2 separate regions of the Homo sapiens genome follow, and region 2 is linked to region 1. Evidence: fine-mapped QTL for protein levels in blood plasma. A gene starts in region 1. The other region holds a variant in brackets. All regions are shown on one strand. Distances are from middle to middle. Region 1 holds the start of CLEC3B (C-type lectin domain family 3 member B). Region 2 has its middle 11 kb from the start of CLEC3B.

The links. PIP is the chance, under the fine-mapping model, that this variant and not a neighbour inherited with it causes the effect. The UK Biobank Pharma Proteomics Project read protein levels with antibody pairs (Olink). The fine-mapping took linkage between variants from a reference panel, not from the people measured, so its PIPs are less certain.
Region 2: its variant is fine-mapped to the plasma level of the CLEC3B protein (UK Biobank, PIP 0.95).

The regions. Positions count from the first base shown.
Region 1 is chr3:45,021,116-45,028,499 of GRCh38, reverse strand. It overlaps CLEC3B (C-type lectin domain family 3 member B), which reads right to left and starts at 2,197. Exons shown (of 3, transcript NM_003278.3): 1 at 2,029-2,197. The coding sequence starts at 2,137. RefSeq lists enhancers at 816-1,315, 1,316-1,817.
Region 2 is chr3:45,011,494-45,019,836 of GRCh38, reverse strand. It overlaps a transcript of EXOSC7 not described here. Among named protein-coding and RNA genes, the nearest start is that of CLEC3B, 11 kb to the left of the region's middle. RefSeq lists an enhancer at 7,624-7,743. The variant T/A (reference allele first, on the strand shown) is at 4,221.

The sequences.
Region 1 (7,384 bases):
ATTGCAACCTCCACCTCCCAGGTTCAAGCAATTCTCCTGCCTCAGCCTCCTGAGTAGCTGGGACTACACGTGTACACCATCACACTCAGCTAATTTTTGTATTTTTAGTAGAGACAGGGTTTCACCATGTTGGCCAGACTTGTCTTGAACTCCTGGCCTCAAGCGATCCTCCCACCTTGGCCTCCTAAAGTGCTGAGATTACAGGCTTGAGCCACCACGCCTGGCCAAGGCACCTGGATTCTAATGTATCTCCCAGATGATGTTGATGCCTGAGTGAGAACCACCATGGTTCATGTCTTAAGAGCAGAGACGGTGTTTCTCTGCTGTGTGTCCAGCATATAGACTGGTGCCTACGTGGAGAAAGAGCTCTATAAGTGCCTGCCATGTTGGTGGGCGGGAGACTGCCATGGGTTTCAGCGAGAGGCAGGGCCTGGGTGGCTGTTCTGTTGGCCTGTAGCCCTGGAACTCCAGGGGCCCCTTCTATGGAGACCACATAGGGCCAGGGTTCAAGTGTGACAGCTGGAGAGAACCAAGGCATCACGTGCTCTGACCCTTTTTTTTTTAACATGAGTTTAAAAAGATTTACATAATTATATTAATACTGAATCTTTGGTAAACTTGAGAAGCTGGCGATGGTTTTCCACATTCAAAAATTCTATGATTTGCCTTTGGAGCTGCATCTTTTACAAAGGCTCTCCCTTGGTGGCGATTTTGGCTAATGCTCATAGACGTAACTATGCACGGTATTGTCTTCTCTTTTTAAATGAACATTTTGTGGAAGGTAATATACACACATAATTTTTTAAAATCCAAACAGTTCAAAAAGCTGGTTTCTTTCCCAGTTGAGACTGCGCCCAGCCCCTGGTTTTTCTTCCCAGAGGTAATCACTGTTACTCACTCTTGTGGATCCTTCCAGAAAGAACTTATGCACATACAAGTAAAAATGTATTATTATATAAATCCCTTTTTCAAAGCAAATGTCAGCATCATACTCATTCTCTTTTGAATGTTTCTTTTTTCACTTTGTAAACTGAATCTTGAAGATGATTTTTTTATCAGCAGCCAGATTTGCCCCATTCTTTGTCACAGTGTTGTGAGGCCCCATGGCCCCGATGTCCCTTTATGCACTGCACTAGTTCCTGGCCAGTGGGCAACTGTCCATTTATGAAGAGCCCCGGGAGGGCCTAAGGGAGGCCCCCACAGCCCCTTCTTTCCTTTTCTGTGCCCTTGGTCCTAGCTGCTTGTTTCTCTGCCTCAGTCCCCACCCTCATCCCCTTGGACTCTCTTCTAGCCTCTGCTCCCTGGGGGGGTGACAGCCCCGTCCATTGCCATGACATTCCACTGATGTTGTCTCAACACAGCCTGGGGTGACCTCACTGCAGGCGGGGCTGCAAGGGCAAGTCTTGCTGTAGCCAAAGCAACCGAGGGACACCCCAATCCCCAGAGGCTACAAAGCAGAGCAAAGCTGCTTCTGGTGGACTAGTCTGAGTTACATTTATTTCCTGAAGGCTGTGATATGCTACAGAAATGAGAATTCATTTCTTCTTCTTTTTCTTTTCCCTGTGCATCAAGCAACAAGTGAGGTGCCTTTATATATTTTGTATCATAAAATCTTCATGAGAAGTCTTTGAACAAATACCACTGTCCCCATTTTACAGTTGAGAAAACAGGTTGGAAGACTCCAAAGCCCAGCCTGTGCAGCTCTCCCTGGTAAGGGCTGAGCGCTGCCAGACTCCCAGGCCAAAGGTTTGGTTTCTTTAAAATATTGGGGATGAGGGGAGGAGAGAAGAGCAAAGATCAGTTTGGATGATCTGGAAGGTTCTTCCCAACTCTAAGGGTCAGGGATTCTTATGATTCTGACAACCAACTCTGCTATGAGAGAACTCCCCCAAGCCCCAAAGCCCACTTTACTCAAGTTCCCTAGATGACTCAAAAGGAGGAAAATGAAGGAAAGGAGCATGAGGACACACTAAGGAGAGGGGGACCTGCTCCCTGGAAGATGGCACAGGGCTCTGTCCCCCTCCTTACCTTTCTTGGCATTTACAATCTTCTTGGGCTTCTGGGTTGGTGGCTCGGTGGTGACCTGGGTCAGGAGGGAGAAGAGGCAGAGGAGGAGGTAGGCCCCCCAGAGCTCCATGCTGCTGCGCGGGCGGGGGCTGCTGCTGCCTGCAGCGGGTCTGGGTCCGAACGCAGTGACAGCCACGGCCCAGGCTGCACGTCTTAAGGCAGCAGCCAAAGGACCTCTGTCCAGGAAACCCTCCCCAACTTGGCTGCAGGCGTGCCAAAAAAATAAAACAAACACACAAGCCTGCAGAAGGATGAAGTCCTGAGGGCCACAGAGCCTCTCTGCCAGGGAACACCCACGCAGCATCCTGGCCCTGCCTTCTAGAAAGAAGCCCTTATTTCCTAGGATTCTGAGAAACACACGGTGGTTGTCATCACATCTGCGGAGCAGCTACCTTGGGTAGGGGCTGAGGCTGGCTGTTCACTAACATTAACTCACAGAAGCTTCACACCCAAACCACGAGGGAAGCACTGTCCTTTCCCCATTTTACCATTGAGGAAATTGAGGCTCGGTGAGGTTAGGGAATTTGCCCAGGCTACCCAGCTGTCACGGGGTAGCAATGCCCCCTTATAGGGTGATCTGGGGCTGGCTGTCTGATTGGTTTAGAATATTTGTTATGATTATTTTGTGGCTCTGTCTCCATGTACTTGATGCATTTTTTGGTTAAAAAATCCAAGGGATTCCTTCCCTTCTTGTCTTCCCTTTCTCCTGAGTCCTGTCCTAAAGCCACAAAGTGGGGCATAGCAAAGGTGGCGGAGGGAGAAGCCATCGTGCCCCAGAGGTACCAGAGAGGATGTGGGGAGAATGTGCCCTCAAGGGGTGGACTGGTGTGGGGTGTGGGAGCCCAGCAGGGTGGAGGGAGCATCCTGGGGAAAGCAAAGGCCCTGCCTGGAGTGCTGGAGTCCAAGTGAGGCAAGGAGGGGATCCATGTGGGAGAGAGGCTGGTGGCAGAGACGGGAGATTGGTTACACACAGGGATACTGATCAAATAAATCTACTGAAGACAGTGGGAGTTAGGTTTCCTATTGTCAGAGAAGGAAGTTATGTATATGGAGAGAAAACTGGAATGAATCCTGTTGTGTGGGATTAAAATCGGAATGATCAGTGTACCCTTGTGGCCTTGAATACATAAAGATAAGTCCATATATATAGATGGAAATGTGTGTGTGTCTAGTCCCCACAGTCACTGGGGGGCCTGGAGCAGCCAGCCCCGCATAGCCTGGAGCACTCCTAGCACCTGAATACTGGCTTCTGAATATGACTTTCCACTAAAGGAACCAGAGCACCTTGCAGAAACGGCTGATTCTAGCACTGGGAAGTAGGAGTGGGGTGCAGAAAATGAGCCCGGAACTTGTTGTTTTGCCAGAAAACAAGGAAGTGCTTAATGAATAATGGGAACACGTCAGTAGGACACAGAGCCAGCTTGAAGGAGCCTTCAGTGGTCAGAATCAGGGACAATTTGAGCACCAACATAGTGACAGTAACAGATGGGAAACCACCAGTGCACACAGATATAAGTAAGTAAGGGAACGCATTGAAAGTCTGATGTTCTTCAATGGGATGTTTACATAGCCTCAAAGTATCTGCCCACAAAACACTTATCCATTCCAGAGAGAAAAAGAGCAACTTCATGGTGAAGAAGGCTGGCAGACATCACCTCATCTGTGACCAAAGTAAACATCAACAGGGCCAATAAAAAGCTTGCAGCACCTGGGGGGCTGCAGTGAGAATGTGGCATCACTCCATAGGACTCCGGCCAGAGAGACATCAGACAATCCCAAATGGAGGAGCATTCTGCAAAATGACTGCCAGTAATTTTCAAAGCTCCTGGCTGAGGAAGTGTTTCAGGCTGAAGGAGACTGAAGACACAGAACTAAATGCAATATGTGATTCTGGACTGGACCCTCCATTCTCAAGGATGCAGTTGGGACAACCAGAGAAATCTGATGGGGTCTGAGGAGCACACGGCAGTGATGTGTTGTCACATGCTGCATCATGACAGTTCAGTCAACAACAGGCCACATATGTGATATGCTTCCATAAGATTATAATGGGGCAGAAAAATTCCTAACACCTAGTGATGTCACAAAGGGTTGTAAAGTCATAGTGCAACTCATTATTCCCAAGTTTGTGGTGATGCTGGTGTAAACAAATTTACTGCCAGTCATATCGAAGTAGAGCATATAAGGTCATGTTAGCACATAATACTTGATTTTGTTAGTCCGTTTTCACACTACTCTAAAGAACTGCCCAAGACTGGGTAATTTAGAAAGGAAAGAGGTTTAATTGATTTACAGTTCCACACGGCTGGGGAGGCCTCAGGAAATTTACAATTGTGGCAGAAGGTGAAGGGGAAACAAACACCTTCTTCGCAAGGAGGCAGGAGGTACAATGAATGCAGGAGGAACTGCCAAACACTTATAAAACCATAAGATCTCATGAGAACTCACTATCACAAGGACAGCATGGGGGAAACCACCCCCATCGTTCAATGACCTCCACCTGGTCTCTCCCTTGACACATGGGCATTATGAGGATTACAATTCAAGATAAGAATTTGGGTGAGAACATAGTCAAACCATATCATTCTGCCCCACATGATTGTGCTTTGAAATGTGAGAGCATGAGATTTGGGAGGGGCCGGGGTGGAATGATATGGCTTGGCTGTGTCCCCACCCAAAATCTCACCTTGAATTGTAATCCTCATAATCCCCATGTGTCATGGGAAAGACCAGGTGGAGGTCATTGAACCATGGGGGCAAGTTTCTCCCATGCTGTTCTCGTGATAGTGAGTCTCATGAGATCTGATGGTTTTATAAGCATCTGGCATTTCCCCTGCTTGTACTCACTCTGTCCTGCTGCCATGTGAAGAAGGTGTCTGCTTCTCCTTTGCCTTCCACCATGATTATTAGTTTCCTGAGGCCTCCCCAGCCATGCAGAACTGTGAGTCAATTAAACCTCTTTCCTTTCTAAATTACCCATTCTTGGGCAGTTCTTTATAGCAGTGCGAGAATGAACTAATACGATGATAATAAATGACCGTGTCACTGGTTTATGTATTTACTGTGCTATACTTTTTATCATTATTTTAGAGTGTACTCTTTCTACTTTTTTTTTAAAAAAGTTAACTGTGAAACAGCCTAAGGTGGGTCCATCAGGAGGTTTTCCAGAAGAAGGCACTGTTATCATAGGATATGATAGCTCCATGTGTGTGACTGTCCCTGAAGACCTCCCACTGAGACAAGAGGTGGAGGTGGAAGACAGTGACACTGATAATCCTGACCCTGTGTAGGCATGGGCTAATGTGCGTTTGTGTCTTAGTTTTTAACAAAAAGTTTAAAAAGTAAAAAAGTAATAATAACTAGAAAAAGCCTATAGAATAAGGATATAGAGAAAATAATTTTGTACAACTGTTCAATGTGTTTGTGTTTTAAGCTAAATGTTATAAAAGTAAAAAAGTTAAATGAGTTCAAAAGTTTACAAAGTAAAAAAAGTTATGGTAAGCTCAGGTTAATTTATTATTAAAAAAGAAAACCATTTTTTAAAAAAATGTAATGCAGCTTATGTGTGCAGTGTTTTATAGAGTCCAGAGTAGTGTACAGTAATGTCCACGTTCACTCACCACTCACTGACTCACTCAGAGCAACTTCCAGTCCTGCAAGCTCCATTCATGGTAAGTGCCCTATACCAGTGTATCATTTTCTTTATCTTTTATATCAGGAGTCCCCAACCTCCAGGCTATGGACCAGTACTGGTCCACAGTACTGGTCCGTGGCCTGTTAGCAACTAGGCCCATCAGCAGGAGGTGAGTGGTGGGTAGGCGAGCATTACCACCTGAGCTCCGCCTCCTGTCAGGTCAGCAGCAGCATTACATTCTCATGGGAGCACAAGCCCTATTGTGAACTGTGCATGAGAAGGTCTAGGTTGCACACTCCTTATGAGAATCTAACGCCCAATGATCTGAGGTGGAACAGTTTCATCCTGAAACCATCACCCCAACCCCGCATCCGTGGGAAAATTGTCTTCCATGAAACCAGTCCCTGGTGCCAAAAAGGTTGGGGACTGCTGTTTTATACCATATTTTTACTCCACTTTTTCTATGTTGAGATACACAAATACTTACCATTATGTTACAACTGCCTACAGTATTCAGTGCAGTCACGTGCTGTACAGGTTTGTAGCCTAGGAGCAACATACCATACCTGAGAGCCTAGGTGTGTAGTAGGCTATGCCACCTAGGTTTGTGTAAGTACACTCTGTCATGGTAGCACAACGATGAACTCGCCTGACAATGCATTTCTCAGAACGTATTCCCATTGTTAAGCAACGCATGACGGTATCCCTGTTATGGTCCTACTTGATGGTGTGCTGTGATTATGTAGGAGAGTGTCTTTGTCTGTAGGAAACACACATACTGAAGTATTAGACAGCGATATGGTACTGTGTTGACAACTTACATAGTTCAGGGGGAGAATGTTCTTTGTACTGTCGTTGCAAATTTTCTGAGTTTGAGATTCTTCCAAAAGAAAATACAATACTATGTACTTCAGGCTTTTCCCTGCCTTCTAGGGACCCCACCTTCCCCTGTCTGACTTAGGGAGGGATCTCTTATGTAGTAGGCCAGGGAAGCAGGAGGCCAGCTGGGCTGGCCCAGTGCACAGTAGTCCTGCCAAGGGTGGGGGCCCTGAGCACGGAGCAGAGCATTTGCACGGCCCCTCAACGACACTGGGCTCCACCTCTCACATTCTCAGAGTGGGAAGGGTTTTATATTCACAGCTGGGCCCTCGGGAGACAATTTGGAGCCTGATGATTACATAACCTAAAAGGGGCCTTGTTCCTGGAACTCTGGGTGGGTAGCAGATGGTAAAAGAAAATTAATATTTTTGTTAACTGCTTTGCTTTCTTGGTTTTCTCACCTTGGCCCAACTCTATCTTGGCCCTTCAGTGGTAGGAAAATGAACGAAGTATGCTTTCTAAACATGAGGCAACCAGAGGCCCCATGTTTTCCAGGGCTGGCTGATGGTTGAAGCTATGGGGACTGTGGTGGCGTCTCACAGGGCACCGAATGCAGCCAGGGCAGGGCAGAAGGAAGGTGGCCCTCAGGCTGAGGAAGGGACACAGAGGGTGTGGCCAGCTGAGGGGAGGAAGGAATGAGCACAGGGCTCCAGGTGGAAAACACACAAGCAGAGTCTTGGAGCCAAGCAAAAGCACCTTGCATTCCAGATCCCGAGCCAATGAGGACAGGGTGGGGAAGACATAAAGCTGGATATGTAGCTTAGAGGAGCCATCAAGCCATCTTAAAAGACTCTGGATATGAGC
Region 2 (8,343 bases), 9.1 kb after region 1:
GGATTACAGGCGTGAGCCACCATGCCCGGCCCAAAATAGTAAATTTTATGTTGTGTATTACCACAATAAAAAGTTGTAATAATGCAAAAATAGAATCACCCAAGGCAATTGGTAAAATAAATAAATAATGAATTCTCTCTTGTGAATAGAATATTGTCCTGTGTCATATCTGTGGGTGTGAAAAGTGCTATTTCATTAAATGTAAACATTTAAAGTACATCTCTATTTTTCGTAACCTGGTTTGGGCATTTCATCATTTTTTTATTGCTTCAGTGGTCCTCAAAAAATGCAAACTGGCCAGAAGCGGTGGCTTATGCTTATAATCAAAATCCCAGCACTCTGAGAGGCCAAGGCAGGAGGATCAATAGAGGCCGGGCATTCAAGACCTGTCTGGGGAACATAGGGAGACCCCATCTCTACAAAATAATAATAATTTAAAAAAAGCCAGATGTGGTGGCATGCACCTGTAGAGCCAGGTACTCTGGAGGCTGAGGTGGAAGGATCACTTGAACTCAGGAGGTTGAGGCTGCAGTGAGCCATGATCACACCACTGCACCACTCCAGCCTGGATGACAGAGGGAGACCCTACCTTTAAAAAAAAAAAAAAAGGGCAGGGGTTCAATAACTCTTGATCTCTGAGTTAATAAGCAGGTTAGAAGAGGCCATCTAGTCTAACCACCCCTCGATGTGGGATGTCCCTTTCCATTGACCCTGTCAGATGTCTCCATATGTTGCTTAAACCCTTCCAGGAACAGGAAGCTCATTACCTGAAAAGCAACTAGTTTCATCGTTAGACACTTGGCTTGTCCTCAGGATCCCCCTGTGGTGGGGCAGGTTGGCCTCCGGGAAACCACCCCATGGTTCCTAGTGCTGGCCTGTGGAGCAGTCACATGAGAGGCCAGCCTGTCCTTCTTTGACTGTCCTTTCTCCATGTTCCGTTCCTTTTTTCTTCTCAATGGATCCTCTACAATATGGTTCCTGGATGCTACAGATTTCAATCTACTTCAATCTTCCAGAGAATCCTCACTGCATAAAACTGTGCTTGTTATGGTCTTCATTGTGGTGCAGATCCCAGAACAAAACTTGCTTTCACGGGCCTTCCTCTGGGCCAGGGCAAGTGCCTCCTGTGAGCAGACTAGACCCTCTATTCAGGAAGCCACAGATTCATGGGCTCTTTGTAGCACCTGGGCCTCATTTGTTGCCACTGTTGAGTTTATGGCCATTAAATATCCAGATCCTCTTGTCCACCCCCAACTCTCCCTGGCCAGGTGTGGACTGCCATTGCAGCCACCTGCAATGGATTCACCGATAGCCCTGGTGGAGCCAATTTTACCTTCTACATATGGAAGATGATATCAGTTTCATCTTCCTTGCATTAAAGATCTGCTGACACTGTCCACAAGACCTCAACTGGCCCATGGCGCGGCAAGTGGGGGTGGCTTCAGCCAAGACAGTGATGCTGCATTAATGTTCATGAGCGACCCCAACCCTCAAGGAAGTGTCTGTTCACTAACACACCACTCTCACAGCCCAGTCTTTTCATACTAATCTCCCTGTACAAAGAATGATCTTAATAACAAAACAGGCAAAAAAAATCAGAGGAAGAGAGCTCTAAAGGCATATTTCAGCTTTCAAGGTTTTTTTGTGTGTGTGGTGGTGTTGTTTCTTTTCTCAAAGCTGCTGGAAGTCTCAGTTATACAAAACAGGCTTTGGTCACTCCACCCATATTAGCCCGAATAACATGCAAACTTCTGGCCCACCATGGAGCCATTCCAGCCCCCTACCCCACCCGCAACCCTCACCCGGCACAGATGTTTCCTTTTAGTTCCACTGGCCCCATGTCAACAGAAATGTGGCCCGGCTATAACAGAGGCAGAGAACTTTCCACATGCCCTTCAAAGGTAAGAGCATATAGACAGCCTGGTGCAGGGGCTCACACATGTAATCCCAACTCTTTGGCAGGCAGAGCTGGGAGGATTGTTTGAGCCCAGGAGATGGAGGCTGCCGTGAACTATGATCATACTACTGCACTCCAGCCTGGAAAACAGAGCAAGACCCTGTCTCTAAGAAAAAAAAAAAAAAAAACTTTGTTGGCCTAGTACTCTGTCATTCATTCAAGTATTGGCTCTGTCCCTGTGTACCGGGCCCTGAGTTAGGTAGGTCCTAACTCAACCAAATCTTAGCTCTCAAGGGGCTCACAGTCCTTGTTGTTTTATCCTTAAAGCTCTGTAGTGTGGCAGTGGAAAGAGAATGGAGTCCCGAGTTCCAAATTTGGTTGAGATACCTGGCACTTGTGTCGTTTTGGATGAGTTACTCAAGACCAAACTCCTCTTCTGTAAAGTGGGGTAATAATCTCTACCCTGCTTGCACATGGGATTCTTTCAAGGAGCAAACTGAGGTCTCGCATGGGAGACAGCTGAGCAACCTGCAAGGTTGTGGGAAGGAGGAGGGGTGGTCTGAGCCACCACGCTGTCCCAGTGTGTCAAGGAGCTTGATAGCCTCTTTCCACACCTCGATTCCTTCCACTCCAAGGGACAGTAACTTAATCACCTGATTTGTAACTTTGGGAATAATAAACTGGGCATGCACTTACCTGATGCCCTCAGCTATAATAGTTCACACAAGAGGAGAAAAACAGATAGCCCTATAGAATGCTACAGGAGATTTCAATCTTCTTTAGCTGAAACTCCCTGACTTCCCATCATGTCTGAGAATTTGGCAAATATAAACCCAGCTGTGTGTTTAGGGATCTTTGAGTTTCTAAATCATCACACTATCCCTACACAGCTTTGCTGGAGGTTTTGCAGGTTTCCCTTTCCCCGGTAGAGTTCCTCTATGTTCCCAAGCCTGATTCTTATTCCACGTCCAGAATCTGCAAATGCCCCCAGGGAAGGAAATGCCAGTGACAGCCTGCTCACTTCAGAAAGTCTCCCCCTTCTCTGGAATTTTAGGCCATGAAATCCTCTTTACTTCCAGAGCTTCCCAAAATCTTTAATGATATGACTCTTGAAATGCATTCAGCATTTTTAGCTGCAGCAGCATGAATGGTGGTCCACCATGACCTACATATCCTACCCAGAACTGAAGTCAAAACACTTGTTGAACACCTCCCTTGGAAAATGTCCTCTGATGGGCATTAACACGATTCCCGACTATCTGCGCTTTTTTTGGCCCATTCCCACAGGTCCATACAAATCCCTTTTCTCTGATCATCCCATCTTACTCCTTTCAGGCCCTTGTCCAACTAGCCAAGTTACTCCCTACTATCCGGGAATCCACGTGTACCCTTATCCCTTTGTGCAAACTTAACAACCAAGTGCACTGGCTGCACTCAGTTCTCTCACTGCTGTCCTGCAGGGCTGTAATGCAGGAGCAGTCCCTTTGGGGCACACATCAATATAGAGAACCAACTCATCCACAAGGCAGACCTGGGGTTTTCCTCTTCCAGTAGCTGGCTGCAGGAGTCCCCTCCCCCATGAGGTCATAAGTGTGGATGAGAGGCACTGGCGAACAGGGGTGACAGACGAATCTGGGCTACCTGGTATATTCCTTGGTTGTGCCCACTGAACTGCTCAGGCCTAATCCTGAATGTACATTTTCATGTTGCATGGATTGTTGCTGCACCCACCCAAACTTATGACCTGGTGGGTCTGACAATAACCAGCATGATGGGTGGCTCAGGTCACTTGAGGTCCCAGGGTTGGGTATTCAGTCTCTAATTGGGCCCAGTGGCAAGCCAGAAACTTCTTTTCAAACTCACTCATTTGGAGGTGAATAGCTTTCCACCACATGGCCTTGCTCCAGAATCCTAGGGTCTGTGCTACAACGTTCCTGTTGGGCCTGCCAGAAACTACACAGCACCCTTACCTGCCCCAGATAGCACTAGCTCCGTTGGAATTTCTGGGTCACATGGAGCAGGAGGGATGCTTGTAATGCAGCTTAAACAGGCTTCAGAGTCCTGTCTTATTCTGGACTCCCATTCACAACTGGTAGGTTTGTGAATTACTCAATAAATGCATTGAGACAGCATTCTCAAGTACAGCATTCTTGTCTCCAAAATCCAGAGGCCCAACAAGTGCTGTACTTCTCAGTGAGGGTAGTGGGGATGAGGGTGGGTGCAAGGTTCAAAATCTACCACCTTAGAGGGGGTATCTCTCAGAATGCCCCACACCACTGGATACCTAAAAACATTATCAGTGTGGTGGTCTCCTTAATCTTCA[T/A]GGGGTTTATTTCCCACCCTCTCAGGCATGTGTCTTTTACTAGGACTTCCAACGGCTTTCCACGTCCTATGTACTAGATCTAATAAACATGATTTTATCAACATAAATAGATCAGCGCGATGGCCCTGAAGATATCACTGTGACAAAAAGTAGGTGATTAACATAGACCGCTGACAAGACACTGAACACATTTTGCAGTCCTTCCACATAAGAGATCTGCTTTTGACCCTTCTTGTTAATGGGGATTAAGGAAGAATTTTCCTAACTTATAGCCACATACGAAGCATTGGAGGCTGTGCTGATTAATCTTAGTGAAGATACTTCATCCAACAAAGCAGTGGAAATTGGAGCTCTCTCGTGTGTTTGGTGGTCATCTACCATGATTCACCTGGCTTTTACAGGGGCCACAGAGATAAGATAAATGGCAATGAGGCGGGGACAACTACCCTTGCATCCTTAAAGTCTTTGATGTTGGTCCTAATCTCTGCAATTTCTCCCAAGATCCAATATTGTCTCTGATTTATTATCTTGGCCAGGGAAGGGAGGCAGTTTCCAACCTTGACCCTTCTTACCATTGTGGTTTTCATTCCATCCCATTTATGACATCTCAATTGTACCACATCCATCCCACCTACACATTTGGGGAAGGAAATTATCCCAGGACCTAATGACCATTGTGAGCCAGACTTACTTGTACCATCCATTTATTACCTAGCCTCCATCCCCCATCCCCTTTGACTGGAGAGCCTTGGTGGCATTTCAGGTCTCCTAATACAGGCATCAAGTCAAAACCCAGATTCAAAAGGCTTCAAATCACCTTTCCTCAATGCTGGTATTCCAGACTGGAGAACTATTATTGTAGGTGCTGATGGTGATATTACAGGATTCTTATTTAAAGACACCAACCTCCCTCCTGTCAATGGACTTTGATCTGTGAACTGGCTTACGGAAACTGGGTGAAGGACTGGAATTTCCCATTATAGTGGTTGACATAAGCTTTTTATGCTCCAATTATTATTATTTTTAATTTTGACAAGTTGAGTAAAATCCTGATTGGCTGCCCATGTCTTAACCCTCAGAACACATAATCTATTAGCTACGGTCTGACTGCCGTAGAGGCAGAGGCGAGGCTGAGGACAGAAGGTAATCCATCAGAGGCATCTAGCAATGCATGGAACATTGTTTCCCCACTAACTAGCAGTTACTTTATGGCCATTATTTGGGATGTATAAATAACACTGGGATAAACTCCTCTGTATTAATGTTTCCACTCCCCTTGTATCATAAATTATTTACTTTGATTACATGCCCAGAAGTAGAATTACTAGGTCAAAGGGCAAACATTTTTAAGGCTTTTTGTTGAGAAGGAGTCTCGCTCTGTAGCCAGGCTGGAGTGCAGTGGCGCGATCTTGGCTCACGGCAACCTCCACCTCCTGGGTTCAAGCAATTCTCCTGCCTCAGCCTCCCAAGTAGCTGGGATTACAGGCGTGTGCCACCATGCCAATTTTTGTATTTTTAATAGAGATGGGTTTCACCATGTTGGCCAGGATGGTCTCGATCTCTTGACCTCATGATCCGCCCACCTCAGCCTCCCAAAGTGCTGGGATTACAGGCGTGAGTCACCACACCCGGTCTTTTAAGGCTTTTAATGCACACTGCCAGATTGTTTTCCAAAAAGTCTGGAATAGCGAAGACTTATTCTCTACTGGCAGTTTGTATGTTAGACAACTGGCTTTACTGAGCAAACAAACTACTGTTAATATTCTAAACTCGGCCAGGTGCTGTGGCTCACGCTTGTAATCCCAGCACATTGGGAGGCCGAGGCAGGCGGATCACAAGGTCAGGAGATCAAGACCATCCTGGCCAACATGGTGAAACCCTGTCTCTAATAAAATAAAAAAAATTACCCAGGTGTGGTGGTGCACGCCTGTAGTCCCAGCTACTCAGTAGGGTGAGGCAGGGGAATCGCTTGAACCCGAGAGGCAGAGACTGCAGTGGGTGAGATCACGCCACTGCACTCCAGCCTGGCAAAAGAACGAGACTCCGTCTCAACAACGAGAAAAAAATCTAAACTCATGTCCCAGTGCAGTGGCTCATACCTGTAATCCCAGCACTTTAGGAGGCCAAGGCAGGAGGATTGCTTGAGGCCAGGAGCTCAAGACCAGCCTGGGCAACATAGTGAGACCCTCATTTTAAAAAAATAATTTGCTGGGCATGGTGGCATGCCTGCAGTCCCAGGAAGGTGGGAAGATCACATGAGCCCAGGAGTTTGAGGCTGCAATGAGCTATGATTGCACCATTGCATTCCAGCCTCGGTGACAGAGTGAGACCCTATCTCTAAGAACAAAGAAAAGAAAAAAAATTAACTCGTGATTTGGAAGACTAAAGAATCAGAGACAAAAACCCACTTGAATATTATTTAACATTGCATTTCTTATACTCCGCCCTTACTTTGACCAACTTCAATGTTCTTCTACCTAATGTTTATTTAAAGACCACTAAAGACAGCTGTGGCTCTGCTGGATCAAACAGGTCTGTCCCAGGATAATATTTTTCCAAGTCTTTGCCAGTCTCTGTCTTCAGTTTTCTCTTCTCTCACTCTGACAGTTGCAACAATCAGATCTTTCCAATAAATGCCTCTCCTGGAGAGTCCCTGCTCATATGGTGTTTTGTTTCATTTGCAATATACGTATATTACATGTAGGGGTGGCCTTCAGGGAAAGGTATGGGGTGGCTAGAAACAGATTCCACCATCTTTTTCTCTTCTTTCTCCATTTTTACTGGAAGTGCTTAGCCAGCCATCCAAGCTGGTAGCTGCTTGTCATACCACTGGCATGGCAAAGCCTCATCTGTCTGTCTGAAGGGAAGTGAAGCAGAGCTGAGTCTGACATATATGACAGTACCCATTCTAATTTATGCATCTCAAAATGATCCACTGGAATCAACCATCAAAAGCAAATGCTTCTAAACTTTATTCACACTCGAGTTGCATCTCTGCGCCACCACTGCCAATGTTTTGTCATGTCACGGGCAGTCAACCAGGAGCAGGGAAGGAGAGACCAGGCTGATTTCTGCCTTGTTGGGAACACTGTCATGGTGCCTGTAGATAGTCACTGAAGAAACATAAAAGATGAAAACCCAGGCTATGCTCTCAACAGGGCAGAAGCTCCCCCATTAAGCCCAAGTCTAGGCAGCTGCTTCTCTCCACAGGGATGGACCTGGCCTTGCTGGGAGGAACGCCCACACCAGGACCTCTGGAAGCAGTCCCAAGGGCTTCAGCTCACATTATGTTCTTTCCATTTGGTGATAAATTCCTAACGCCTTACCCCATTTGCTAACTGGAATGCAGAGAGCAAATGCCACGGTTGAAACGCTCTCCTTCGTGAATCAGCTCCTTCCCCAGGGTGTTTTAAGATTTAGGAGTTTCAGTTCCCCTAGAAAAAAAAACAAAGGCTGCTCTACACATGAAGAGACTTAATTTTAACACACTGCACAGTGAGACTACAGGCTTATAGGAAGAGCCTTCTGGGCCAGCAAGCATAGTCTTCCTTTCAATGCTGAGAGCATGAAGGCAGCTGAATTATCAAATGACAACATCTTGAAAGCTGCCTTCTTAATGCTGACAAAACAAAATCTTAGGAAACACCAGGGAGTGGTTATAAAACACAAAGCAATTTCAAAACAAGAGTGATAAGAAAGGATGGCTAAGGGCCAAAGTGGCTGCCACTAAAGCCCCTGAACCTAGGGAATTCCATTCGGATCTCTTGGAGGGCAGGAAGTCAGAGCTGGACTTTCCCAGGATTTGGGATGGCTAACCAGACAGACAGACGCCCTGGGTGTGTACCTGCAGCAGAGTGCCTCCTCTTTTTTCCTCTCCCAGAACCACCCAAATACACAAGGTGAATGAACTTTTCTTTGTGATTCTTATTTTTAAAGTTCTTCAAGGGGAAAAAAATTCACAAAATACATATCATAAGCATTTCCTGTAAACCAGTTTCTGTCAGGTCTTTACTCCAGCTTGTGGGGGTCTCCCTTGGTGGCAGAGCTCTGGATTTGTCTGCCACTCACTAGATAAGGGCCAGACCCAGATGGGTCACTGAATGGTGCCTTGGCTTCAACTGAA